Homo sapiens: one gene and its partners. The protein of the gene in region 4 interacts with the protein of the main gene of each other region in a biochemical or structural test. Each region holds a gene or a part of one and is shown on either strand. Other genes may lie near its edges.

Region 1 (7,025 bases), about 48 Mb from region 4:
TGGTACTGGTACCAAAACAGATATACAGACCAATAGAACAGAACAGAGGCCTCAGAAATAACACCATACATCTACAACCATCTGATCTTTGACAAACCTGACAAAAAGAAATGGGGAAAGGACTCCCTATTTAATAAATGGTGTTGGGAAAACTGGCTTAGCCATATGCAGAAAGCTGAAACTGGATCCCTTCCTTACACCTCACACAAAAATTAACTCAAGATGGATTAAAGACTTAAAGGTAAGACCTAAAACCACAAAAACCCTAGAAGAAAACCTAGGCAACACCATTCAGGACATGGGCATGGGCAAAGACTTCATGACTACAACAACAAAAGCAATGGCAAAAAAGGCAAAATAGACAAATGGGATCTAATTAAACTAAAGAGCTTCTGCACAGCAAAAGAAACTATCAGCAGAGTGAACAGGCAACCTACGGAATGGGAGAAAATTTTTGCCATCTATCCATCTGACAAAGGGCTAATATCCAGAATCTACAAAGAACTTAAACAAATTTACAAGAAAAAAACCACCCCATCAAAAAGTAGGCGAAGAATATGAACAGACACTTCTCAAAAGAAGACATTTATGCAGCCAACAAACATATGAAAAAATGCTCATCATCACTGTCGCTAGAGAATTGCAAATCAAAACCACAATGAGATACCATCTCACACCAGCTAAAATGGCAATCATTAAAAAGTCAGGAAACAACAGATGCTACAGAGGATGTGGAGAAACACGAATGCTTTTACACTGTTGGTGGGAGTGTCAATTAGTTCAACCATTGTGGAAGACTCTGGCAATTCCTCAAGAATCTAGAACTAGAATTACCATTTGACCCAGCAATCCCATTACTGGGTATATACCCAAAGGATTATAAATCATTCTACTATAGACACATGCACACATATGTTTACTGCAGTGCTGTTCACAACAGCAAAGACTTGGAACCAGCCCAAATGCCCACCAATGATAGAATAGATGAAGAAAATGCAGCACATATATACCATGGAATACTACGTAGCCATAAAAAAAGATGAGTTCGTGTCCTTTGCAGAGACATGGATGAAGCTGGAAACCATCATTCTCAGCAAACTAACACAAGAACAGGAAACCAAACACTGCATGTTCTCACTCATAAGTGGGAGTTGAACAACGAGAACATATGGACACAGGGAGGGGAACATCACACAGCAGGGCCTGTCCAGGGGTGCAGGCCTAGGGGAGGCATAGCATTAGGAGAAATACCTAATGTGGTTGATGGGTGCAGCAAACCACCATGGCACGTGTATACCTATGTAGCAAACCTGTACGTTCTGCACATGTACCCCAGAACTTAAAGTATAATACAAAAAAAATTATGGTTAAGTAATCTACCTTCTATAGTCTACAACCTATAATAACTCCTATACCAACAAGTTAAGGAGGGGAAGATAAATTTAGATGTGACAGCCTAAGGACACAAACCATTTAATCCTCTCTACAGGTTTTCAAACCTAGAATCTTACCAATTGCTCTTAATACAAGTATATGTCTGACTGACAATATATAGATTACAGTAAGTCTTCATGTAATGTCATTGGTAGGTTCTTAGAAACTGCCTTTAAGCAAAAGGAAGTATAGTAGCAGGTCTTTGAATAAAGTTGTTTTCATTTCATTATAACAGTGATGAGGGGGAAAAATAAGTTCAGCTTGCAGATCAGCTTGGTACTGCCCATTAATCTCATTGTTACACTTAAAGTCCTTGCAATGTTAAGTGAGCTCTGATTAGGTCTATGATTCTCCTTGAAATTAGTTTCCACAAGCTCACCTACATAGACACAATCCCAAAAGATGCAGGACAGACTTTGCTTCATTAAATATGTACCTCGTAAGTAATGATTTTCTGGATGGTAACTAAGATAAAATGACTGATTTTATTTTACTAAATAATTACCTACCCCTCCTCCTAAACCAAGAGGGGGCTCTTCCTCAAGCAAGAATACTAAGTTCAAAGTATTTTAAGTTATGAATTTATGGTCACAACAGAGGACATCACACAAAGGAAAAAACCACCAGGTCAAATGCAAATAAACCGGCAAATAAAATTTTCATTATACAATTATCGCTTGCTCTGTGGGAAAATGCTCAAGAGTATAGGCTTTTTTTTTTTTTTTTTTTTCATTCAAAGATATCAACATCAAAGTAAATTGGCAGGGGTATATAGCTCAGTGGTAGAGCATCTGACTGCAAAGTAAATTTGAACTTGAATTACCATAAGTCTTGCCACCATTCTTCTCAGCTGTCAAATACATTGCTAACACTAGAAAATCCATAATCTTATTTTTCTACCCTGCCAATACCCACTACCAAAGAGACAGTAAGCTAAGATTCTCATATAAATTCCTCCACAAAAAGACTACTCCATCCAACCATATGAAACTGCAGTTGTGATCCCTAGTCCTGAAAATCATCAATACTTGTGATGTTTTCATAGGTTACCAGTCTGCTTTCAAGCAAAGCCCATCATGTTAAGCAATTCTAGAAGAGTGGCTGATAGCTAATGTGCTAGAAAGCAACCACCAAAAATATCAAAGGCCTCTAACTAGGGTAAACGGGTGATTCCAGTATTCAAGGAAAAAGCTAATTATACTTGGCATGGGTTGCATTTCTTTTCAGCTGCTCTTAGTCACCCTATATACAACTTCGTAAACAAAGATAGTCATTAACTTCTGGATAACAACGTGCTTAAGAATGTACCGCTGTGTGTGGTATAAGCTAGTGTACCTTTCAGCAGACTGCCAATGAATTCTTCATAATGGGATTTAGCAGTACACTAAGATGATATTCAAGAACTGTACGCAACTGTAATGCCTCTTTTCTTAATAATGGCCCTCAATCAGCCCTTGAAAATCAGTGCAACAAAACTTGGCCATCTGTTCACAAAACTTTCAAAACTGAAAAATAATAATCTACCATATAATAAGATATTTTAATATAAAAAAAGATTATTTGAACAGTCTAATTCAAGTTTCAACTGTTTTCAAGTCTTTAAGTCACATAACTGAAAATTCCCATTTCTATCTTGAGAAAAAATATTTCCCAGCAGAGGAATCTACGAGCGTCTATGATGGATGGTTTTAATTTTATATCCTAGGAGTTTTAATGCTGATGAGATTAATGAGCAGTACCATGCTGATCTGCAAGCTGAAAAGACAAATAAAAGATAGTGAAGGGGTAGGAACAGAATCTCCCCTTGTTCTCTGGAAGCAGCCTTTTGTATCAGAGTAGGAATTCCCAGGTTACAAGAATAGATTCTAAACAAAGCAACTAAGAATCATATAAAACAAGTCAATGGATTGACTGTAATCTGGCAGGGTCTCTGCCTAATCACATTGTTATTACTAGGTTAAAAAGCAAAGGGCTTGCACCTGACAAAAAGGGCTAACGAAAAGCCAACTGGATCCAACACAAAACAAACTTGTCAAAACCTTCTCTTCACCACCAGTAACGTGTCATTACCAAAATAATCACATTGATGGTAAATAATTTGTTGTATCTGCAACTGGAACTCAGCAAATTCTAACCTGGGCCCAAGTATTATATTACCCATCTCCGAATGTGACATTCTATCTAGCACCATCCAGACGAGAAAGCAGAGCAAAAGACTCTAGCAATGGAAGTGTTTTTTTTTTTTTTTTTTTTTTGAGACAAGGTCTTGTGCTGCCCAGGCTGGAGGGCAGTGGTGCAATCATGGCTCACTGCAGCCTCGACCTCCTAGGCTCAAAGCAATCCTCCCACTTCAGCCTCCCAAGTAGCTGGGACTACAGGTGTGTGCTACCACACCCAACTAATTTTTGTATTTTTTGTAGAGATGGGGGTCTCAATATGTTGCACAGGCTGGTCTCAAACTCCTGGGCTCAAGTGATCCTTCCACCTCAGTCTCCCCTAAATTGTTAGGTTTACAGGCATGAGCCACCACACCAAGCCTAGAATGGAATTCTTAAAACTTAACTGTATACAGACTTTCACAACTCAAAGAAAAAAATCTGAAAAACTGAAATTGGCCAAGAAAGCTTTACATATTGTTTTTCTAGTTCCTCTAAGCCATAAGGGATTATAAGATGAGTAAAACAAATACAGATTTTTTAATTCTATTTTTTAAAAATTGTTTCAGGCCTGGCGTGGTGGCTCAGGCCTGTTATCCCAGCACTTTGGGAGGCCGAGGCAGGCAGGTCACTTCAGGTCAGGAGTTCAAGACCAGCCTGGCCAACATGACGAAACCCCATCTCTACTAAAAACACAAAAATTAGCCAGGCAGAGTGGCATGCACCTGTAATTCCAGCAACTTGGGAGGCTGAGGCACAAGAATTGCTTGAACCCAGAAGGCAGAGGTTGCACTGAACAGAGATCGCGCCATTGCATTCCAGCCTGGGTGACAGAGCGAGACTCCATCTCCAAAAAAAAAAAAAAAAATTGTTTCAGCAACCTGTAATGTTTTGAGTTTTGAAAAAATGCTACGACTAAAAACTCAGAACAGATAAATGATTAGTTTTCTCTTTCACTTTCAGGCCTCAAACATCACTGTTCAATAGCTTTTTTTTTTTTTAAACAAACCCAATGATCAGGTATGTACCCACACAGCTTGTCCATGTAACTACCTTCATGTCGTAGCCATATGTCTCTCGAATGTCTTCATCAGAGTCTGTTTCTTCATCATCATAGTCCATTGTTTGTCGAGGAGAAGATGACACACTGCTCACCACCCGGTTAAAAGCAGACTGCTGGAAACTAGGTAAGTGTCCCTAAACAACAAATAATTCCAAGATGAACAGCAAGACATGCTAAACAGACAGGGTAATTAATGTGTGCTTAAGATCACCAAAATGTAATGAATAAGCAAAGTGGCTAACAGAGTTCTTCAACAGTTAGTAGAAATCAAATTATTTGATTATGATGCCAAAGTCCACCTGAATGATATTACCAAGAATATTTCACTAAGTACGTATCCAAAAAAAGTGCTATAGTGTATGTTGAAGGAGAATGCAATGGATAATTGCTGACAAGTTACTGTTATTTTCCTAATCAATTGGTAAGACAGACTCAATTTACTATTTATACACTGACATATCCCATGAAATAGAAAAAGAATGTAAATCCTAAACTTGCCTGTAAGTCTGGATTGGCAGCTGCTTTTTGGAGTTCTGCACTGATGATCTTTTCAGTTTTTTCTCGAGCCGCCTGTTCCACCATACGCTGGCTCAACACAGATAGTTTGGCCAGGGCAGAGGATAGTTCATCTGTGGCTAGAGCCTGCCGCGCTCTATCTTGCCAACTCATAGCACGTTCTGTCAAACACTGCAGGGCCTCTCCTTCAGGCAACCGTACGGGCAACTTCTGAAGGGATACCAGGAGTGACAGAATAGTCTCTAGCCTGGGCCTTCGAGACCGCATACAAAGAGGGCAAAGGAATTTTACTTCTTTAGCTTGCCAGCTGGATCCTTTTTTTTGGGAACTTGATTTAGGAAGAGGAACACAGCTGTTATGGAACCAGTCTTTGCAGAGCTCACACTGTAGCATAAACCCACTGGCTGTCTTGCGGCAAATGCAAAATTTTACTTCTTCTATGCGGTCCACCATTGTCATCTTGGCTAGGTTGGCTGCTCTGAGAGAATGCATGGCTTCAATCTCTTTTTGCTCCCGTTCTTTGAAAACTGCCACCTGTACAAGACAAACATTTAATTGAAAAGAGTCACTGCAATATACCCCCCAAAATACCAAATCCTCAAGGCTGTGGGATCTTTCTCCCAAGTTATCAGTTATAAACAGTTTCCTAAAATGTGGGGCCCCTGGCGGTTTCCATGCAAACATTCCTCAAGTGTGAAATGGGCAAAGTGCTATCATATTTGATCATGTACATCAGTACAGTACTTTGGCCTCTTCTGTAGGGTGCGGTACAAAGATGGCATGCCTTGAAATCAAGCAACCTGGGTACAAAGCCTGGCTCTTGTACTTTTAGACTGTTAATATGGGGTACAAGTTTCAGAACGTCCGTTTTCTGAAAAATGAGAATACTACCAACCGTATTTTGCTGTTTTACGGATTAAATAAGATAACATATGAAAGTGCCTAACCTGGTACCTTGCACAAGGTAAACACTCTTAAAGTATTAGTTTCCTATCACCTCGTAATTCATTCCCTGGGGCAAGTCCTACACAAATTAATTTACTTCTCTCTGGAAAGCCTCTTCATGTATAAGTAGAATAACAAAACTTGACGATCAGTTGTAACAACAGAGTTTTATGAAACTCATTTTAACAAAGTAAATAAAGGCAAACAAATTTAATTATCAATACTGTCAGTGCATTTTCTTGTTAAACTACTGGCAGCTTTGAAACAATTTTGAAATAATTTCCAGTCCTACTTGTCTAGCAAGATTGACTTGTTAGGCAGGCTCTCTAATCAGAGAATATTTTCACTGGCTTCAAAACAGAATCATTTGTAGGCAGAAAGAGCTATATCACATGCAATTCCCTACTTTTATTGTCCAGATTCGTATTTATTTTCCATTTCCTCAGGCTCCTAGTAATCTTAACACATTCCTCCTATCCTCCAAAAAAGCATAATTCTCATCAACTACAAATATTTTAACACTCATTAAGAGATGGAAATCTGTAGCCTGGTATAATTCCTTTGAAAAACACAATAGTAATAAGAGTCATAAAATGCTTATATTAAATTCTAACCCAGTAATTACATTCCTAAGAGTCAAGTCTAGGAAATTTAAAAGAAGGAAAAGGTTATAAAAGAAGTTCATTTTATTACTTACAATAAGAAACTTAGTAACAGGCAAAATGCTCAAAATTAGAAAACTACAGCAGGTCCTCAAATAACATCTTTACGTTCAGTGTAGTTTCATTATAACACTGATGAGAAAAAAATCAATTCCTGGCCAATGCCACTGTCACTCACTAATTTACCAAAAACTGGATAATTATTTCGTTTTTATTACTCTTTCTTAAATGTAGGTTTAGCTCGAATTT
Region 2 (7,025 bases), on a different chromosome or scaffold from region 4:
CAGATTAAAGTTGATTGGGGTTGTTATGTTTTGTGTAGTTTTTGGAGGCATTTCCCTTTCTTAGAGTATCATGTGATTTATGGTGATAATTAGGCAGAAACTTGTCTTCCCTACAGATGCCAAGATTATAGAGGGACTTGCTCTCACCAGAGACCAGATGACAGCATCCGTAGATATTTTTAGAATGGACCTCATCATTTATTTGGTCTCCCCATTTCATTTTCTTTGTATCAGCAATTGATTTCAAACTTGTTTATTGGGCAGGGAGGGGAGAGAGGGCGTCTTCCCTTATTAATGAAAGTCACTGATGGGACAGAACAGCATCTTTGTATTTATTGTTAATTGGCATATTGCCTAGTACTTGCAGAGTAAACTACAATTCCATCAGCTGTAGCTTCATTTTCTTTTCAAAAGTTTTGCTTAATCTGATGTGTTTTCTTACAGCATTTTAAAATTTTATTTATTTATTTTGAGACCGGGTTATGAGACTAGTTTTTGTATTTTTGGTAGGGACGGGGTTTTGCCATGTTGCCCAGGGTGGTCTCCAACTCCTGGTCTCAAGGGACCGCCCCCCTCAGCCTCCCAAAGTGCTGAGACTACAGGCATGAGCCGCCATGCCTGGCCCCTTAATCCGATGTGTTTTTAAACTAGAAGAGCATCGACACATACACATAAATCTCACGGTTAACTAAATAACCGTATAACTAAAATGTCATACTTTAAACTATTTAAGAATGACATGAGCTTTCTTAAAACCCATGAAACTTGTACCCAAGCTAAGTATCATTGACTTTCCCAGCTCAGTAGCTGGGTTTCATCACTTAATATGCTCCCTCTACTCTTTCTGTCCTTGATTGAATCAGATAAGCATGTACAAACATTGAGCCACAGGAGAGCCATTAAAAATCTAAGACAGATGAGCTGCTGCTTTCCTTTTGATTATTTTTATTACCCCAGTTTTCATTGTAAATGGTGATTCTGGTGTTCCTCTGAGAAGGTTAATTGTATTTCTGTTCAACATTTATCTTCTATATTTTCAGTGTTTTACAATCTGTTTTCCTTCTGTCACAGAGGAAACCAAAGGCCTTTCTGTTCTCTGGAGTGGGAGTTTCTGTATTAAATTTGTCCTCTGCAAGAGTTGCCTCTATACCTGGGCCAAATCCTCTACCAATTCAGCCTATAAGCACCAAGGTGGTTTCCTGAGCAGGCCTCCCTGGGAGGGCATTGCCTGGGGGACCTCAGCGGAAGCTGTAGAACATAGCTTCACAGGTGACCCCAACCCCAATCTGCAGAAAGGGAAAGTGGTGATTCACACATCTCGTTTTTAATAATGGAGTTCTCTGAAGATTGGGGCCTTTTGATGAAGGAATGGATATTAAGCCTGGGGACTGTGGTTGGTTAGTGCTTTAGACTGTCCCACATGGGCCTCCTACTCCTGGCTTTGGGGTGATGGCCTGTTCTGCTCAAAATTGTGCTCTGTTAGGGGCTCATGGGTGTCCTCTGTCCTCTTTCCTGCTGTGTTGGCCCAGCCCACATTGGAGCAAGCCACACTCCCTGTCTCTGTACTTGGGGAATGAAGTGTGTCACCTTCCCATTATGCACTGGCTTCTGTGGCTGCATAATTAATACCCAAGGGAACTGGAGAGAGATCTGAATTAGGTAGTACTTTACAGCTTCTCCCTCGGCGCTTACAGTAAGTCAGGATGGGGACTTGGGGATGGGAGTCCCCTGATGACTGATCACATAGTGATGTTGGATGGTGGTTTATTAAGTGTTATTGTGAGGGGAAAAAACCAAATCCTCTTCCAGAGGACTGTGCCTGTGAAACGCTATCTAATCATTCATACTTTGCAGGGCAAGGTAGAGTAGTTAGAATAGCACTGACTTTAGCAAGCTACGGTCTTCACAGATGCTGAGATCTAGTATTTACTTCAGCTTTTACTCCCTCTAGAATCAACAAGCCATTATTTTATAGTCCAAGGTAATATTATCTAGTAGCTTTACAAAGCAAAGAATGCCCCAAAAAACCATCAGCCAGGGAAACTAAAACCTAGGGATAGACAGGAAGAAGAAAGAGGCTTCTTTTTATACTTTATTGTCCCTACCTCCAGTAAAACAACCTAAATTCTTCAATTTGGAGCTTTAACAAGGATAAGTAAATATGACCATGGGCATGTAACATTGTAAATACTAAGTCCTGCTGTGTTTGCAAACATTGAGAGTGAAAGGTAAGATTGCCAGCAAGTGCAGAGTCACAGAAGAGATTGAAGTTACAGTACACTCATGAGAATTCCTGATGACCCTACGGTACAACCTCTAAAGGTGGGAGAAGCAGATGTATATAATGTGATTTTGTGTGTGAGTTTTTTGATGCTTTTTTCATTACTTATTTACCTTGTCTGGAGAGAAAAGCACGAGTTCATGTTGTTTCACTACCACTTTTCTATCCATTTCTTGGCCTAGAGCCGTTTCTTTACTACCATAACTGCCAACACTATCTCCATAAACAAAGAATCTTATGTCTGGAGGTCTGTCATGTCACGTCCTTTTGCTATTAAGACAGCTCTATGAATATACTTTTTTTTTTTTTTTTAATCCCTTAACTTTTCTGGGCCCAGTGGTCACATGACATCTGATAAGACTTGTATAAATTCAGATGCTCTAAGAGCACCTTTTTTGTGCCTTTCCATTGAAGACAAAATAATAATTGGAGGCAGAATAATAATAATGTTGTTGATTGTTAATGGGGTGTTTTATGGGGGATTTCTTGTCCATATATGTGTTATGTAATTTTTTTTCTCCAAATTTGTAATACAAAAATCAAATTCCTAAGCCAGGTGCATTGGCGTGCCTGTAGTCCTAGCTACTCAGGAGGCTGAGACGGAAGGATCTCTTGAGCCCAGGAGTTCAAGTCCAGCCTGGGCAACATAGCAAGACCCCATTTCTTAAATTCTTTTTTTTTTTTTTTTTTTTTTGAGACGGAGTCTCGCTGTCGCTCAGGCTGGAGTGCAGTGGTGCGATCTTGGCTCACTGCAAGCTCTGCCTCTCAGGTTCACGCCATTCTCCTGCCTCAGCCTCCCGAGTAGCTGGGACTACAGGTGCCCGCCACCGCGCCCGGCTAATTTTTTGTATTTTTAGTAGAGACGGGGTTTCACCATGTTAGCCAGGATGGTCTCGATCTCCTGACCTCGTGATCTGCCCTCCTCAGCCTTCGAAAGTGCTGGGATTACAGGCGTGAGCCACTGCGCCCGGCCCATTTCTTAAATTCTTAAGATGGCCCGCTTAGTAATTACTTACTCTTTTTATGGTGGGGAATAGGGGAGTCAAGATTACCCACACCCAGCACTGCAGACTTATTAAGGCCTTTATAGAAAGTGGCCATTTCATCTCCACTGGTGTTGGGGTATTCGTGGAAAAGGGTGGTAAGCAATTCAGTTAGTCCACATAGCCAGTAGGGAAGAACCAGAAAAGTATAACTCATCTACTTAGGATGAGCGGCTCTCCTTGTTTTAGCATGGAAAGTCCCATGTCCTAGGAAATCCCTCAGTCCGGAAGTCTAGAACAGAATCTTATCTGCACCTTGAACATCTAACTAAAAAGGACCCACCAAAACACCCCTAATATGGCTTTCTTTATCTCCCAAAGTGAATGATCCCATTCCCTTTGGGCTTTTCAACTTCAGAGCATTTTGTAATAAGGACAACATGAGAAATAAGGTAAGTAATCTTTGTGCTTTGTCCTTAGGATTTCAGACCTTTGAAACTGGTGTAGCAGAGCAGCTTTGCTGTGCTAGCCCTGGGCTCTGAGGTGGGTGAGGGAGATGGAAGGCCTTGACAGGTGGCCCTCAGGTGCCCACTATTGCTGTTGCAGTGCCCTTAATGATCTCTGGTTTTCTTTTCTCCTCCTTTAGACCCTCAAACTGACACAAGACCTACAGAGAAAACCCTTTGCCAAATCTGCTCTCAGCAAGTGGACAGTGATACCGTTTACAGCTTAACACCTTTGTGAATCCCACGCCATTTTCCTAACCCAGCAGAGACTGTTAATGGCCCCTTACCCTGGGTGAAGCACTTACCCTTGGAACAGAACTCTAAAAAGTATGCAAAATCTTCCTTGTACAGGGTGGTGAGCCGCCTGCCAGTGGAGGACAGCACCCCTCAGCACCACCCACCCTCATTCAGAGCACACCGTGAGCCCCCGTCGGCCATTCTGTGGTGTTTTAATATTGCGATGGTTTATGGGACGTTTTAAGTGTTGTTCTTGTGTTTGTTTTCCTTTGACTTTCTGAGTTTTTCACATGCATTAACTTGCGGTATTTTTCTGTTAAAATGTTAACCGTCCTTCCCCTAGCAAATTTAAAAACAGAAAGAAAATGTTGTACCAGTTACCATTCCGGGTTCGAGCATCACAAGCTTTTGAGCGCATGGAACTCCATAAACTAACAAATTACATAAACTAAAGGGGGATTTTCTTTCTTCTTTTGTTTGGTAGAAAATTATCCTTTTCTAAAAACTGAACAATGGCACAATTGTTTGCTATGTGCACCCGTCCAGGACAGAACCGTGCATAGGCAAAAGGAGTGGAGCACAGCGTCCGGCCCAGTGTGTTTCCGGTTCTGAGTCAGGGTGATCTGTGGACGGGACCCCAGCACCAAGTCTACGGGTGCCAGATCAGTAGGGCCTGTGATTTCCTGTCAGTGTCCTCAGCTAATGTGAACAGTGTTGGTCTGCTGGTTAGAAACTAGAATATTGATATTTTCAGGAAAGAAATCAGCTCAGCTCTCCACTCATTGCCAAATGTCACTAAAGGGTTTAGTTTTAAGGAGAAAGAAAAGGAAAAAAAAAAAAAACAAAAAAGTCCTGTTTTGCTTTGCAGAACAAATGAACTTACAGGTGAGCATTAAGCTTGCAGTGAGAAATGTGCGAAGAGTAAAAACCCAAGTCAATGCTGAGGCAGTTCTAACTTCACTGTTTTCCTAAATACACATCCTTGATTATTTTCAGCCTTGCTATATAATCTGATCTGCTAGAAGTGTATGAGTGAGAGGCAATAGCATACAAACTGATTTTTTAAATATAAGCTTAGGTTGTAATTGTACAAGTGACTCAATGGAAGTACAAAATAGGGCAGTTTTAACTTTTTTTTCTGCTTCTATGGATTTCATTTTGTTGTGTTTTCAAAAAGTTATGGTGCTGTATAGGTGCTTTCTGTTTAACCTGGAAAGTGTGATTATATTCGTTACCTTCTTTGGTAGACGGAATAGTTGGGACCACCTTTGGTACATAAGAAATTGGTATAACGATGCTCTGATTAGCACAGTATATGCATACTTCTCCAAAGTGATATATGAAGACTCTTTTCTTTGCATAAAAAGCATTAGGCATATAAATGTATAAATATATTTTATCATGTACAGTACAAAAATGGAACCTTATGCATGGGCCTTAGGAATACAGGCTAGTATTTCAGCACAGACTTCCCTGCTTGAGTTCTTGCTGATGCTTGCACCGTGACAGTGGGCACCAACACAGACGTGCCACCCAACCCCCTGCACACACCACCGGCCACCAGGGGCCCCCTTGTGCGCCTTGGCTTTATAACTCCTCTGGGGGTGATATTGGTGGTGATCACAGCTCCTAGCATAATGAGAGTTCCATTTGGTATTGTCACACGTCTCCTGCCTCGCTTGGGTTGCCATGTTTGAGCGATGGCCCTGTTGATTTCACCCTGCCTTTTACTGAATCTGTAAATTGTTGTGCAATTGTGGTTATAGTAGACTGTAGCACATTGCCTTTTCTAAACTGCTACATGTTTATAATCTTCATTTTTAAAGTATGTGTAATTTTTTTAAGTATGTATTCTATTCATATGGTCTGCTTGTCAGTGAGCCAGACTTGCTTACTATATTCCTTTATAATAATGCTAGCCACTTCCTGGATTCTTTAGTAATGTGCTGTATGCAAGAACTTTCCAGTAGCAGTGAAGGAGGGTTGCCTCTCCAAGCTTCCTAAGGGATGCTGCCCTGTGTGGGGATGCATTGCAGAGGCACTAGTAGCATGGGGGCTAGAGTGGGGAGCGAGATGTAAAAGGGTGGGGGGATAGGAGAATTCCAGAGTGCTTCCAGCATTAGGGTCCTGAGAACTTCTGAGTTCAGAGAAACATGCAAAGTGACTAACAAAATAGCTACTTACCTTTGCAGTTTTACAGACCCTGGGAGCTGCTTTGGGAGTGAGAAAGGCAACCCTCCAATGTGTTTCAACTTTAAAATGTTGAATTCTTTTCAGACATGGTATCTCATTTATTCTCCTTTTCTAGCGTTTGTTGAATTTCAGGCAGAATGTCTTACAGAATGTCCTAGAACCAGATTATCATTTAATCTGAAACAGCTGAGGAAGGGACAGAGAAGGTACAAGGGCAAGGCAGCACAAAACAGATCAGGAGAATGAAGAGGGAATGCTTTGGTTTTTTGTTTTGTTTTGTTTTTTCTTTTTCAAGTAACTAAAACAGCATCTACATGTAGAGTGTTGTGGAGAGCTGAGACCAGGGTAAAGTCAAGTGCAGCATCAGTACTGCGAGACCCACCAGCCCCTGGAGAGGGTCAGCCGAGAATCTGGTAGTGAAGCCTGTCTAGGGTCCCGGCACCCTCACCCTCAGCCACCTGCAGAGAGGCCAGGGCCCCAGAGACTAGCCTGGTTCTGAAGTGGGCAGGGGTGCTGCCAGAGCCCTCTGCCCCTTATGTTGAGACCCTGCTTTCAGGACAGGCCAGCCGTTGGCCACCATGTCACATTCTGAGTGAGTGTCACAGGTCCCTAACAATAATTTTCTGATCTGGAGCATATCAGCAGAATGCTTAGCCTCAAGGGGCCTGGCAGCTGTAATGTTTGATTTATGATGAGAACTATCCGAGGCCACCCTTGGCCTCTAAATAAGCTGCTCTAGGGAGCCGCCTACTTTTTGATGAGAAATTAGAAGAGTACCTAATGTTGAAAACATGACATGCGCTCTTGGGATCTGCTGTTCTCTCC
Region 3 (7,679 bases), on a different chromosome or scaffold from region 4:
TGCCATGGCCTTCTACAGTTCTTCCATGAAACTGAACTTAACCCAATGCATACATACTGGTTGGGTGGTCTGTTATCGACACTTTAGGCTTGCCTTTGCAACCTAACCAGTATGTGAACAGAGGCAGTGAATTCACTGCTGATTTCAGTACTGCTTGAGAAAGTGCTCTCTGAACCAGCAGCACATTCCACTGTATATCCTAAAGAGTGACAAATCTTCATTTTCTGAGGCTAGGTATACTTTCTTGGAAAGATCTGATGACTAATATATGTAAAGCACTTAAAATAGTGCCTGATGCACATTAAGAGCTATAGAAGTATTACCTATTTTTATTACTTTTAGTCAAAGAACAGGATATAACAAAGAAAGACATAAAGTTCATCAATTTCATTACCATCATCTCTCTCCAGGACTCTTGCAGAAACCTCATGACTGCTACCTACTCTTCCCCTCTACCCTTACTCTTCTCCTCCTGCTGCTCCTTTAGCTTAACAAGGATGCTTCTGCCTCAGGGCCCTTGCGCTTTCCTCCAGGTATCCTCGAGCCCAGGCCTTCACTTCCTTCAGGTGTCTGCTCAGAGGTCATCTTCTCATTGAGGCCATTCCTCACCATCTTTTATTTTTAAAAGTCTTGCCTCCAATCCCCCTTAATATGCTTTATTACTCTCCATAGTACTAACCACAGTCTGGCACGTAGCAACCATTTATTTTCTGATCTCCCTTCAGAAAACATACTAGAAGGTAAGTTCCACATGGCGGGGACTTTGTCTTTTTGTTCACTGTTGTATAGTAGGTGTTCAACAATTAATTACTGAGTAAATGAATTCAGTAAGTATTTACATCTAGTCTACTATGTGCCGAGCCTTTTTTTAAAAAACTCACTATCTCAATTAGCCCTCATTAAAGTGGCTATTATCATCACCATTAATTAAAAAAAAAAAAAAAGCAGACTTGACAAGGTTAAATATATTACCTACAGTCACAAACTCCCAAGTAGAAGAGCCAAGATTTAATCCCAGATCTGAGTCCAAAGTCCCTAACCACACCTGGTATGTTGAAGGAATCATTAAGTATTAAGGTATTATGTATTCATCCAACAACTATTTATTGAGTACCTAAACTGACACTACTGTGATAGTCCCTGAGAACACAATGGTGAGCTTGCCACCTAGAGGAGAACTCGTGTCATAGATTCACCAACCAAGCAGAAAATACTAATTCTTTGAAATAAGAGACTGAGTTCAAAGTCCATCAGCAGCAGCAATGACTGGCTCTGAATGCTAACACTATGTGAGGGAAAGTATTATAAAACACTAACTTAGGGACTCTCAACCGGGGGAGGGATATGTGTCAGGATATCCTATGGAGTTTTATGAAACCCCTACACCGGATCCTGAGATTCTGGCACAGCTATACTGATTTAATAAAAAAAAAAAAAAGGGGGGGGTGAGGGGTACTATGTAGTTCTAAAATATCTTCTCTCCCTTTGAGAAGGACATCTTCCTCCCCTTCCATAGCTCAACATGTTTTTCCATTTCCGAAATGCCTGTTTGCACAAAGGTAATAATGTAATTGTAGAGATTTATTTAGATAAAAACTACCACAAAACTTTCAAAGAGTAGGATTTTCCTTAGAGACCCAAGGACAAAGGCTCCCTGGAAGGCAGGAAAGGAGAAAATGAAAGGAACGTTATTGTGCTGGACTTTACATACATAATCTCATTTACTTATCTGAACAAATCTGCAAGCTAGCAAATCTTCAAATGAGAAAACCAAGTAAATTGCCTAAGCCACTGCATCCTTAGGGTAAGTCTTTCTCAAACGGTCTCAAGTACTTTAAAGTTTGGAAATGTCACACTAGGATCTCGGTATAAAAATGGGCCAACTATGACTTCCTGTGCCATCCTCATTCCAATAAGTAACTCAAGAGTCTCTATAAACTTAGTTCCAAATTACCAAGTGCGTGGTGGAAAGCTAAGTCCATCCAAAAGGCAATTACTGTGGTGAACCCGACCCTGATTAGAAAGTGACACAAAAAGGCACAGTTAAAAGTAAAAAAGCTCTGCCTTTGGGGTCAGATAAATTCAGCACTCTGACTTCTGTCATTCTACTTCTGCCATTCTTGATGGCATCATTCCATGTTAAATCCCGTGCCACGTAAGATTATGATTATTGTTTTCCCCACAACAAGAATTTAGTTCCATGAGAATTAGGTGTCCATTTTTTTCATTGCTATCCTCAACATCCTGAACATACAGGCACCAAATAAATGATTGCTGGTGGAATGAACCAATGAATGAGCAAGCCTTACTCTTCTCAGCTGTAAAACAGAGATAATCAAGCTACTTTTCGGGATTATTGGGAGAATTAAATGTGACAGTATGTGTTTGGCACACAGAGGGCCAAAAAAACCCAATATCTTCTTTGCATTTCCACCTGACAAGCTAGAAATGGATTATGTTCTGTGCCCGTCCGGCAAAACAGACCTCGCCTCGCCCCACATCCAAGCAAGAGGCGAGAGAAACAGGAAACTTGGAGCTGTCACACCTAAAGAGAGGGGAAGGCCGGCGGGGAGCAGGAGGTGTCCGAGCCGGGTGTGAGGAGGGTCGGGGAGGAAAGGACAGGCCCACGGCCGGGCACGAGGAGGGTCGGGGAGGAAAAGACAAGCCCGGGCCCGGCGTGTGGCGGGAAGGCGAGAACGTAGGCCCGGGCCCGGCGTGTGGCCGGAAGGGGAGAAGACAGGCCCGGGCCCGGCGGGCAGGCAGGAAGAGGTGCCCGGGCCTGGCGTGTGGAGGGGAGGGAAGGGAAGGAGAAGGCAGACCGGTCCCGGTGTCGGTCGGGTCGGGAAGGGGCGGACAAGCCCGGGCCCAGCGGGCCAGCGGTCATCGAGCCTCCACCCGGCCCACAGCGTTCTTACCAGGTCCGAGTGCCTCTCCAGGCGATCCGAGGAGACCTTGGGTGGACTGAGACACGGCCCCACACTAACCTACGGCCCAAAGGCAGAGTTCTCGCGACAACACAATCTTCCTCCCACACCTCTCGCCATACGTCTGACAGTCTCGCGAGATCTCCGCTCGGGTCAGCCAGAAGCCCTTGACTGCCCTCTAGGAGGCGCAGAGCGCAGGCGCACACTCCCTCCCCGCCCTTGCAGTGTCCTTTAGTCCTTCGTGAATAAATCGAAATTAAATGAAGCAAATGCTTTTTTGAAGGCAAATTTGGTGCCAAGGACCATCCTAAGTGATTCAGATGGCCTCACAAGGTAGATATTATTTAGTTTGAACATTCAGATGCAAAAATGAATATCGTAAGACACAAAAGGCCATATGTTGTATGATTCCACCTTTGCCACATTTGTTTTTCTAAGGATTGAGTTAATAGGCCGGGAGCAGTGGCTCACGCCTGTAATCCCAGCACGTTGGGGGCCGAGGCGGGCGAATCACGAGGTCGGAAGATGGAGAGCATCCTGGCTAACACGGTGAAACTCCTTCTCTACTAAAAATACAAAAAAATTAGCCAGGCGTGGTGGCTCGCGCGTATAGCCTCAGCTATTCGGGAGGCTGAGGCAGAACTGCCTGAACCTGGGAGGCAGAGGTTGCAGTGAGCCGAGATCGCTCCACTGCACTCCAGCCCGGGCGACAGAGCAAGACTCCGTCTCAAAAAAAAAAAAAAAAAAAATTGAGTAAATAAATAAATGGCAGAACCCAGATTCTTTTTTTCTTTTCTTTTTTCTTTGAGACAGGGTCTGACTCTGTCGCTCAGGCGCAGTGGCGCAATCTCGGCTTGCTGTAACCTCTGCCTCCTGTGTTCAAGCGATTCTCCTGCCTCAACCTGCTGAGTAGCTGGGATTACAGACATGCGCCATGATGCCCGGTTTTTAAATTTTTTTGTAGAGACAGGGTCTTGCTGTGTTACCCAGACTGGTCTCAAAGTCCTGGGCACAAGCGATCCTCCCACCTGATCTAGGATTACAAGCATGAGCCACCACGTCCAGCCTACAGCCCAGATTATAACCCACATTATTTACTTGTGACTAGATGTTAAATAGCACTTCTTTCTGTCTCAGTTTTGACAGAGGTCCTCCATACTCAGTTGCCAACTGCTTCCCCACATTCCGCAGCAAAGGAGGTGATCATAGCAGGGTTTTATGGATCTCATCCAAGAGTGACTCTGCTACAAGGGGCAAGGCAACCTCATTAGAAAACAATAGGAGACATAGATTACGATGCAGAAGCTAAGATAACAGTCATAGGCTGTGAGTGGAAGGGGAGCTGTGGAGAGAGAAGCCCACAAAAGTCCCATGAGGAAGTCAGCCTAGAACATGACCTCAGGCAGAAGGAGCCCTTAACTCTCCTGTCCCCCATTCCCTCTCAATTCAGATGCAGCCCCTGGAATGAGACTTTGTGTAACTCAAAATGTAACTCAGACCACTTTTTTAAATTATCTGAAGGTGAACAAGAAAGCTAAGGGACCTGTCTAGATTGCTCAACTGGCCCACATAGCATGTTTAAACAGATAGGGGACAGGGGAAAATAAAGCTCTTTATCAGTTGCCCACTGATTGTTCAACAGATGACTGTTTGCTCATTTCTGATCTGTCACGTACACACAGCTGAGTCCAAGCCCCAGGAGAACAGGGTTCTCTCCTGAAATCTCTCTGGTTCACTGCTGTATCCCCAGGTCTAGAGCACTGCCTGGCCCAGGTGCTCAGTACAGACCTGTTGAGTGAACAGATGTTCTTTAACACAGAAACAGTTAAAAGAGAATCAATGTTGTCGTTGTCTTAAGCCACTAAGTTTTCGGTGGTCTGTGTGTAGCAAGAGGTAGCTGATGCTGGGGCCTTGCACCCAGGCCACTCTCCATCTGCAAGGCAGAGCCCCTGGCCTTTAATTCCCCTCGGGCTGCATGTGGTCTTGGGGGCACTTTCTTCAGGCTTGTTCTAAGCTGTTTTACAGGCTTGTTCTAAGCTGTTTCTTGTTCTAAGCTGCTTTGACCTCAAGCAAACACAGAGGAATGTGGGGGACACATCATAGAAGACACTTCCTGATGAAGAGGAAGGAGGGATAAACAGGAACACCGTAAAGAAAAGAAGGGATCTAATTCCAGCTTGAAGACACACATTTTTTTCATCGTTCACCAGACAGCAGGACACGGGCAGCAGAGTGCAGACATCAGAAACAGTAAGAGTGGCAGTGGTCCCCTGAGTAAGGGATGCACAATGACCTATTATAGAGTTTAGGAAAAATAGAACTTTTATTCATATGTATTTTGTTTTGTTTTGTTTTGTTTGGGTTTGGGTTTGTTTGTTTGTTTGCTTGTTTTTTGAGACGGAGTCTCACTCTGTCACCCAGGCTGGAGTGCACTGATGTGATCTTGGCTCACTGCAACCTCCGCCTCCCGGGTTCAAGTGATTCTCCTGCCTCAGCCTCCCGAGTAGCTGGGACTACAGGTGCCTGCCACCACGCTAATTTTGTATTTCAGTGGAGACGGGGTTTCACTATGTTGGCCAGGCTGTTCTCGATCCCCTGACCTCAAATGATCCGCCTGCCTTGGCCTCCCAAAGTGCTGGGATTATAGGCATGAGCCACTGTGCCCGGCCATTCATATGTAGTTTTGTCTCCCTTTTTAAATGTTTTGTATTCTTTATAATGTGTATTAAATCAATGCATACATAAATTATAAATTAAAAGGACACACATATTCAAGTGTTTGCTCAAAAATCTTTTTACTGATAGGCATGGCTACACAATCATTGACTATTAGAGGCCAGAGGAGAATGAGGCCTGGCCTGGGAGCCCTGTGCCTACTAGAAGCACATTAGATTATCCATTCACTGACAGAACAGGTCTTTTTTGGGTCCTTCTTCTCCACCACGATATACTTGCAGTCCTCCTTCTTGAAGATTCTTTGGCAGTTGTCTTTGTCATAACCCACAGGTGTAGAAACACTGTCATTGAGACAAAACTGGGGCCTGTTAGAAGAGAAAGGACCCCGAGCACCCCCTCCCCAGTGCCAGCTCTGTTCAGGAAGTCACCCACACTCCAACTTAAGGGCACCCTTTGGCTGGCAGCCCCAGAGTGTGACCTCCAGGAACCTGGACCAGTCTGTACCATAGAGTCACACAGCTCACCCCTACATTCCATCCTGCAGGCACAGAAGGTCATCAGTAGGTGCTGACAGGCCCAGGGGCAAGTCTGGCTACTCTAGAAAGTGGCAGCTTGTTCCATGCTGGCTCCTCCCACCCTCCCTGTTCAGGAAGTGGCCAGCATATTGTTGCTAGAATGTGGAAAGGAAACAAATCCCAGCCCTGACTTGGAGGCCTGTTGGCAAAGGAGCTCTCTCAACCAACCAGAGCAATGAGTCACTCCAGGCCAGTGTCATGGAGCCCAGGGAGAAGCTGATGAAAGTCAGAGACCACCTCTAATTGAGCTGCAGTACATACAAATATTTTGAAGAGTTCTGATGAGATGAGATGATACTAATGCTAGAATATTTATGTATTATTACTATTATTACTTTAATTTTTTGAGATGAATTTCACTCTGTCACCCAGGATGGAGTGCAGTGGCACGATCTCAGCTCACTTCAGCCTCCGTCTCCCAGGTTTAAGCGATTCTCCTGCCTCAGCCTCTTGAGTAGCTGGGATTACAGGAGCACACCACTACACCCAGCTAATTTTTATATTTTTAGTAGAGATGGCGGGTCGGCGCGGGGGAGGTCTCACCATGTTGGCCAGGCAGGTCTCGAACTCCTGACCTCAAATGATCCACCCACCTTGTCCTCCCAAAGTGCTGGGATTACAGGCGTGAGACACCATGCCCAGCCCAGTGCTAGAATATTAAGTGGAAAAATCAGCCCACAAAACTGTGATATAAAATTTGATATCCACTATGTAAAAGAAAAAACATATAGAAAAGAGACATAAAGAAATGATGATAGGGCCGGGCGCTGTGTCTCACGCCTGTAATCCCAGCACCTTGGGAGGCCGAGGCGGGCGGATCACGAGGTCAGGAGATCGAGACCATCCTGGCTAAACCGGTGAAACCCCGTCTCCACTAAAAATACAAAAAATTAGCCGGGCGTGGTTGCAGGCGCCTGTAGTCCCAGCTACTCAGGAGGCTGAGACAGGAGAATGGCGTGAACCCAGGAGGCGGAGCTTGCAGTGAGCAGAGATCACACCACTGCACTCCATCCTGGGCGACAGAGCAAGATTCCATCTCAAAAAAAAAAAAAAGAAAATAAATGATGATAGAAGCCCAGGCATGGTGGCACATGCCTGTAATCCCAGCTACTTGGGGCTGAGGTGAGACAACAGCTTGATCCCAGGAGTTTGAGACCAGCTTGGGCAACATAGTGAGACCCTGTCTTAATTTTTTTAATACAAATAAATAAATAAATAAAAATAGAATGTTAATAGTTATTACCTTTACACAGTTGGGATTATGAGTAGGTATTTCTTCTTTTTTCTCTTATGCTTCCCAATGATTCTATAATTCATATGTTTACTTAGAAAATTGGGAAATATCATTTAAAACCTTTCATGTTTTTCATGTTTAAAGGTGATTGCTGGCTGGTAGGAATGTAAAATGGTGCAGCTGCTGTGGAAAACAGCTTGGCAGCTCCTCAATAAGTTAAACAAAAAATTACCATATGACCCAGAAAGCTACTCCTGGGTATATATCCCA
Region 4 (7,025 bases):
AATAACATTGCTTGAGATTGATTTACTTCTCTTTCTCAACCATATTGTTTATGTATTTTATGGCAATATACCAAATGAACTTTGGGGAAGAATGAAGATACAAATATACATAAATATAGCCATTTCCCAACACATCTATTAAATGTGTCAATACTCTATTGTTTTAAGAATATTGGCCGGCAGTGGCTCATGCCTGTAATCCCAGCACTTTGGGAGGCCGAGACAGGCGGATCACGAGGTCAGGAGATCAAGACCATCCTGGCTAACACGGTGAAACCCTGTCTCTACTAAAAATACAAAAAAATTAGCCGGGCGTAGTGGCGGGCGCCTGTCATCCCAGCTACTCGGGAGACTGAGGCAGGAGAGTGGCGTGAACCCGGGAGGCGGAGCTTGCAGTGAGCCGAGATCATGCCACTGCACTCCAGCCTAGGCGACAGAGCGAGACTCTGCCTCAATTAAAAAAAAAAAAAAAAAGAATATTGGCCGGGCGTGGTGGTTCATGCCTGTAATCCCAGCACTTTGGGAAGCTGAGGCTGGCAGATCACCTGAGGTCAGTAGTTCAAGACCAGCCTGGCCAAGATGGTGAAACCCCAACTCTACTACTAAAAATACAAAACTAGCCAGGCGTGGTGGTGCGTGCCTGTAATTTCTGCTACTCAGGAGGCTGAGGCAGGAGAATTGCTTGAACCCAGGAGGCAGAGGTTGCAGTAAGTTGAGATCGCGTCATTGTACTCCGGCCTGGGCAACAAGAGGGAAACTCTGTCTCAAAAAAAATACAAAAAATTAGCCAGGCATGGTGGCACGCTCCTGTAGTTCCAGCTACTTGGGAGGCTGAAGCAGGAGAATTGCTTGAACCTGGAAGGCGGAGGTTGCAGTGAGCTGAGATCGCGCCATTGCACTCCAGCCTAGGTGAAAAGAGCGAAACCGTCTCAAAAAAGAAAAAAAAAATTAACACTGCATGAGTATTTAAATATAAGTATTATATACAGTACTAGTGTTAAAACAATGAAACATAGGAATAAATGAATGAAATTTATATGAATGAATTGATAAAGGAGGATCCCTTCTCCAGTAGAACTCCTTATACTTATATATTTTGGCAAAAATGTATCAGTATGGTTAGGAAATGGTCTTTATTTTTTTCTTTTTTGAGACAGGGTCTTGCTCTGTTGCCCAGGCTGGAGTGCAGTGGTGAAATCATGGATCACTGTAGCCTTGACCTCCTGGGCTCAAGTGATTCTCCTGCCTCAGCCTCCCTAGTAGGTGGGACTACAGGCATGTGCAACCACACCTGGCTAATTTATAATTTTTTTTTTTTGTAGAGAAGAGGTCTCACTATGTTGATCAGGCTGGTCTGGAACTCCTGGGCTGAAGCAATCCTCCTACCTCAGTCTCTCAAAGTGTTGGGATAGGCATGTGCCACTGTGCCCAGCCAGGAAATGGTCTTTAAATGTACATTTTGGTGAAGGATGCCAGGGTCATATATGCCAGTAAACCTATCTCTCTCCAGGATTCCTAGACTGTTTCACAAGTCTACATGGCCAAGCCCTTCTCTCTATCACTTCATTCTGCTCTCAGAGTTGGGGTGTGGAGGAATCATATCGTTGAATTTAAAGAGATAATATGAGGATTCCAGTCAAGCCAGCTGGAGTGAACACAGCAGTGAGCTGGGAGTTCTAGGCCTGGCTCTGACATGCTGGCTCCAACACCTGGAAGGGATCCTGGCTGGCCATTGGACCTCTCTGGGCTTCCACACCATCATCCAGAAAGTGCGGGGATGGACTAGCTCTCCAGTGCTGGCCTGCAGAGTAACGCAAGACAGGCTGCACTTTCTAAATACAGATTTCTGGGCCTACGCCAGAGATTCTGATTTCGCAGGTCTAGGGTAGGGTCTGAATCTCTATTTTAAAGAAGCAATGGAGGCTGGCTGCTGTGGCTCATGCCCGTAATCCCAGCACTTTGGGAGGCTGAGGTGGGTGGATCACTTGAGGTCAGGAGTTTGAGACAAGCCTGGCCAACATGGCGAAACTCCGTCTCTACTAAAAATAAAAAAATTAGGGCAGGGCGCGATGGCTCATGCCTGTAATCCCAGCACTTTGGGAGACCAAGGTGGTTGGATCACGAGGTCAGGTGATCGAGAGCAGCCTGGCCAACGTGGTGAAACCCCGTCTCTACTAAAATTATAAAAATTAGCCGGGCTTGGTGGCCCACACCTGTAATCCCAGCTACTTAGGAGGCTGAGGCAGGAGAATCACTTGAACCCGGGAGGCGGAGGTTATAGTGAGCCAAGATAGTGCCACTGCACTCCAGCCTGGGCATCAGAGCGAGAATCTGTCTGGAAAAAAAATAAAAATAAATAAATAAATAAATAAATAAATAAATTAGCCGGGCGTGGTGTCTGGTGCCTGTAATCCCAGCTACTTGGGAGGTTGAGGCAGGAGAATCGCTTGAACCTAGGAGGCGGAGGTTGCAGTGAGCCGAGATCGCGCCACTGCACTCCAGCCTGCGTGACAGAGCAAGATGCCGTTTAAAAAAATAAAAAATAAAAAAAAGAAGTGGTGGATGAGTGATCTCCAACCCTTCTTGTAGCTCAGTCTAGGACTCTGACTCTGTTCCCCAGAGATTGCAGAAGTTTCTTACCTGAATCCTGGTATCATCTTAGCAAAGCCAATGACCTTTTGGATGCTGTAACTGACCAGGTCAGCCAGGTGGGGCAGCATGGAGAGCTGGGACAGCTCTAGGGTCACAGAAGGGTCATCTGAATCTTCTTCACTCAGATCCAGATTGGAGAAGCTGGACGAGTCCATCATGTCTGGGAGAGATGAGGGAAGAGAAGGAGCTATTTAAGGATACTTGGACCAGGCCCCCTCCTGCCAGACCCTGCAAAAACCTGGTGTGCCCTGGCAGCAGAGCCAGCTGGGAATCCCACAGTGACTCCACAGGTCACCCTTCAGCCCCAGGCTTCCCTCTGGGACTCTCTCTGCCTCTTTCAGCAGCATAAGGCAGTAAAATCAAAGAGCCAGAGACACTCAGAGCAATGAGACTTCCTCAAGCAGACTGTGTGCTGTTCCTATGGATCTCAATCAAGAAAGAATTTGGGACCCATCAAGTCATGGAAAAAAATGTTCAACCTTGCTAATGGTCAAAGAACTGCAGTGTAGAACATCTATAATTTTCACCTACAAACCAGAAACAAAAATGTTTAAATATTGATGCCAGTATTTATAAAGATGCAGGAAATTAGGCAATGCCTATGAGGGCTGGGGTGCTAAAGGAGGTGCACATTACTGAAGGTACTCTAGAAAGCTATTTGACATTAGTCAAATAATTGTGTGTACTCTTTGACCAGTAGTCACACTTCCTGGAATTCATTGTAAGGGAAAATTTCCGATAAGTGTAAATATTTGGCTACAAGTATACTGTTTTCTTATTAAAATGCTGAGAAATAATCCAGATATCCAATGGTAGGGGATTAGGTACATTATTGTATTCCAGAATACTATGCAGCCCTTAAAAATTATATTCTGGATGCGTACTAACTGGTATGGAAAAACAATGCCATATAAAAAAAAGCAAGTCATCAGATTGTATACAGCACAATTTCTTTTCTAAATATACATATGTGTTTTTTTTAAAAAAAAAAAAAAAAAGAAAGGAAGGAAAGCATGATGCCTCCCAGACTCTCAGCTGAGCTGGAGGGGACAGGTCCTCCAGGGCCAGAGTGGTCCCCAGAGCTCAAGTGGAAGGTGGACCTCAATAGGACCAACACGTTCACCTTCCCACTCCAAATTTCACCTTCTGAAGGGCCCAGGATTAAAATATCACGTAAAGGAAGCAGGTCACCTCCACGGAGGGGGCCATGGGCTGAAGCCTGGCTTAGAGGAAACAGCATGGGCCCGGGAGGCTGATGCTACACAGCTGGAATCCCAGCTTGGCCTCTTCCCCAGTGTGGGCCCTTGGGTAAGTCACCCCTTTCTGTAACAGAGGGGCTGTTGTGAAGACGCTGCATAGCGCACAGTATTTATGTAAGTTTCCATTAGGGAGCCTTCCACCTCCTTCCATCCAGCAGCCCCAGGGCAGGTGCGGTGGACTCCTCGCCCCCGCTCCCTTACTCTATGGAGGACTGAAGTCCTGCTTACCTGAAGAGGTGATACAGTGATCTGAGCAGGAGGAGGAGGAGTCCCCAGAGAAGCTGGGAGTGTGTCTGGAGTTGGGCCTGGAAGGATGGCTCCCTCCACCATCATTCACACGAACTGGAGGCTGGAAGGGAAAGATGGGGTCTCAGACCCACATTTTGGGGTTGCCTTCCTACCTTGGCCCTGATCTCTGATAGGAATGGCTTTGAGGAAGGTCTACAGGAAGGCGAAGCCTCCCAGTGCCAGGGGCAGAGCAGCCTCCGTCCCTACCCCAGTTCTGTTCAGGATGTCCCCTGCCCTCTGTCCCTACTCCCTGGGCCCTGGCTCCACTAGTGCTTCTCCTCTGGACCGGCTCATCCTCCCAGCAGGCAGACATACCCGGAACTGGCAGAAGTCGGAGTAGGTGGGGTCGTAGGTCTTATGGTGGGCGTCCAGCAGTATGGCAATGATGCGCTGCTGCTCCTCAGACAGCTTGGGCCGCAGACTGTCCTTCAAGGCCTCCTCCTCCTTCCGCTTCAGGATCATCTCCCGCTTCCTCTGCACTTCCTCATCTGTCAGAATGACTGTGGGGTGGGAAGGGGAGTCAGGAGGGCTGGCCAGCAGCTCCTCCAGGAAACCTTCCTCCTGCGGTTGGGGGTAAAGGTCCAAGATAGGAGGGGCTTTAACACTCGGGGCTCCCTCGGGGGTCCTCCTGCCACGGAGACTCCCACTCCACTGTGTGAAGAAAAATTGGGTTTGCTATGGTGAAAAGGAAGGCACATGCAAGAAGAAGAAAAAGAGGATTTGAGAGGGGGGATGATCTGGGCTTTAGGGAGTCGGGGTTCTCAAGAACAAGTTGTGGGACCTTGGGCAAACTCTCTGGGCTTTTGTTCTTTTGTTTGTAAAATGAGAGATTTGGACCATGTAAGTTCTTCCAAGGTTCCTTTCTTGTACCTTCCTCCATAAAGTGTGTGTGTGTGTGTCTGTGTGTGTTGACATGCAGGTGGGGGAAGTAATAATACCTGCCTCAAAGGATCAACTGATTTGAGAACTGGATGCATGCCTGGCCCAGAGCAGATGCTCACTAAATGTTAGTTCTCTTCTCTTCCCTACCCTGATGTTCCATGATCCTGAAGAAGATATCAGGGTGAAGAGAGGATGCCAGAGCTCTCATAGCGCTGGAAGTGAGATGTGGAGAGGACTCCTCTATGTGGCTGTCTCCACATCCAGGTTTCCAGACATGGGACTGTGGAATATAGAAAGACTAGACCTCTTTGGTTCTCTGCAAAACCACCCCTCCTCCAGCATGTACAGCCTTGACATTTCTGTCCATGGAAGTTTTCAAGTCCTCTTGAAGGCCCCAAAGGGTGAGGCCTTGCAGCTCTAATCTTAGAAGTTCTCTCCAGCCACTAATCAGGGTGTGGGGCCATAGAGAGCCCCACCACCACCTGCAGGCTTCTGCCTGCCTCCCTGTGCTGGGGCAGCTGTGGGGGTGGAGGGGATGCTGGGAGCAAAGGTGCCTGGCACGGCGGCTGGGCAAACAGACCTCCTGGCTGTGGCTTGCTGAGTGCTGACGGCAGGAGTGGGCACCAGGGCCTTTGGCCTGTAGCTACTTGCTTGGTGCTGCTGCTGCCAGGGCATCTGCCCACAGAACTGGGGAGTTTCACAAGAGCAGAGAAAGGAACCAGAAGCCCAGGGTGGGTGAGTTCCAGGCTTTGAGAAAGGTCCATTGGCCCAGGCCCTCAGGTAGGGGGAGGACGAGAGAAGTTGCTGTGGGGTGAGGAAGAGCCTATGCTGGGAGGGAGTGGACAGCCAATGCCACAGGCATGGCAGGAAAGCGAGCGCTACTGCAAGAGATGGTGCTTCCCTCCACAGGGAGCCTGGGAGTAGACCACACCCAGGTGACTGACTCACCTGCCCAAACAGCTGCCAACTCTCCTCCCACAGTGGGTGTCTGCACAGACCCTACCAGGTCAGGCAGGGTGGGAGAGGAAGGGGCAGGGAGCATCCAGGGAAGGCAATGGGGGTAAGCCCTCGCTTGGGGAGCCCAAGATTAGGTGTCTTGTCTTTCCTGCTCACCTGGGGACCAGAGTTAGGGAGACCTGTTTCTGCCAGCCACACCATGGTGTCTACAGGCACGTAGCTCAGCCTGACTGGACTTTGCTAACTTTCCAGTGATTCTGTGATGCCATTCTCCTGCCCAGATACTTTTCTCGGCCCCTACTGATGACCACGTCCAAACTAAAGTTGGCCTCTTCCTAACTTTCAGACTTCATGTCTTAGTGCTTCTGGACACAGCCTCTGTTCTGGGCATGCTGGCATTGCTGCTGGCCTGGGAACATGACCTGCTCATGCTCGCCCCTGCATTTCCAGTTGTGCTAGGTGCCCGTCCAGCTGGGTTTTCTCTCCCCCAAACCTGTATGAGTTCTACCAGTTCTTCAGTGCCTACATCATAGCCATCTTTTTCCATGAAGCATTTCTTGATTGCCCTGATCTGCATCAAGCCTTGTTTTTTTCTGCTGAGCCTCATTTCCTATGCCTGCTACATATTTAGTCTTTCCCACACACATTGACACCCAATTATCTTCTGCTCTGTAAGACTCATGGTTAGCACAGTTTTCAATTCATTACCTATAGACGGAGCCCAAGAAGTTCAAGGTCTCTTTCTCTAGATTACAAGTTACTTAAGGGCAGGGTCCATGTCTTACAATTCTTTCTTTTCTCTCCCTTCCTTTCCCTTCCTTCCTTCCTTCCTTCCTTCTTTCCTTCCTTCCTTCCTTCCTTCCTTCCTTCCTTCCTTCCTTCCTTCCTTCTTTCTTTTTCTTTCTTTCTTTCTTTCTTTCTTTCTTTCTTTCTTTCTTTCTTTCTTTCTTTCTTTCACAGACTCTCGCTCTATTATCCAGGCTGGAG

The links.
Region 1: the proteins of VDR (region 4) and KDM5A form a complex in vitro, tested with the Homo sapiens proteins (one study listed by BioGRID).
Region 2: the proteins of VDR (region 4) and FOXO3 form a complex in vitro, tested with the Homo sapiens proteins (one study listed by BioGRID).
Region 3: the proteins of VDR (region 4) and NCOA4 form a complex in vitro, tested with the Homo sapiens proteins (one study listed by BioGRID).

Annotation. Positions count from the first base shown.
Region 1 is NC_000012.12:302,303-309,327, forward strand, and holds part of KDM5A (lysine-specific demethylase 5A), read right to left. Parts: intron 5,704-7,025; coding exon 5,152-5,703; intron 4,788-5,151; coding exon 4,644-4,787; intron 1-4,643. UniProt on the Homo sapiens protein: Histone demethylase that specifically demethylates 'Lys-4' of histone H3, thereby playing a central role in histone code. Does not demethylate histone H3 'Lys-9', H3 'Lys-27', H3 'Lys-36', H3 'Lys-79' or H4 'Lys-20'.
Region 2 is NC_000006.12:108,675,917-108,682,941, forward strand, and holds part of FOXO3 (forkhead box protein O3), read left to right. Parts: intron 1-3,910; coding exon of another isoform or gene 3,911-3,997; 3' UTR 3,998-7,025. UniProt on the Homo sapiens protein: Transcriptional activator that recognizes and binds to the DNA sequence 5'-[AG]TAAA[TC]A-3' and regulates different processes, such as apoptosis and autophagy.
Region 3 is NC_000010.11:46,027,611-46,035,289, forward strand, and holds the start of NCOA4 (nuclear receptor coactivator 4), read right to left. Parts: upstream 3,014-7,679; 5' UTR 2,916-3,013; intron 1-2,915. Other genes in the region: MSMB (beta-microseminoprotein isoform a precursor), read right to left, coding at 5,812-5,941. UniProt on the Homo sapiens protein: Cargo receptor for the autophagic turnover of the iron-binding ferritin complex, playing a central role in iron homeostasis. Acts as an adapter for delivery of ferritin to lysosomes and autophagic degradation of ferritin, a process named ferritinophagy.
Region 4 is NC_000012.12:47,852,990-47,860,014, forward strand, and holds part of VDR (vitamin D3 receptor), read right to left. Parts: intron 4,700-7,025; coding exon 4,515-4,699; intron 4,261-4,514; coding exon 4,140-4,260; intron 2,813-4,139; coding exon 2,641-2,812; intron 1-2,640.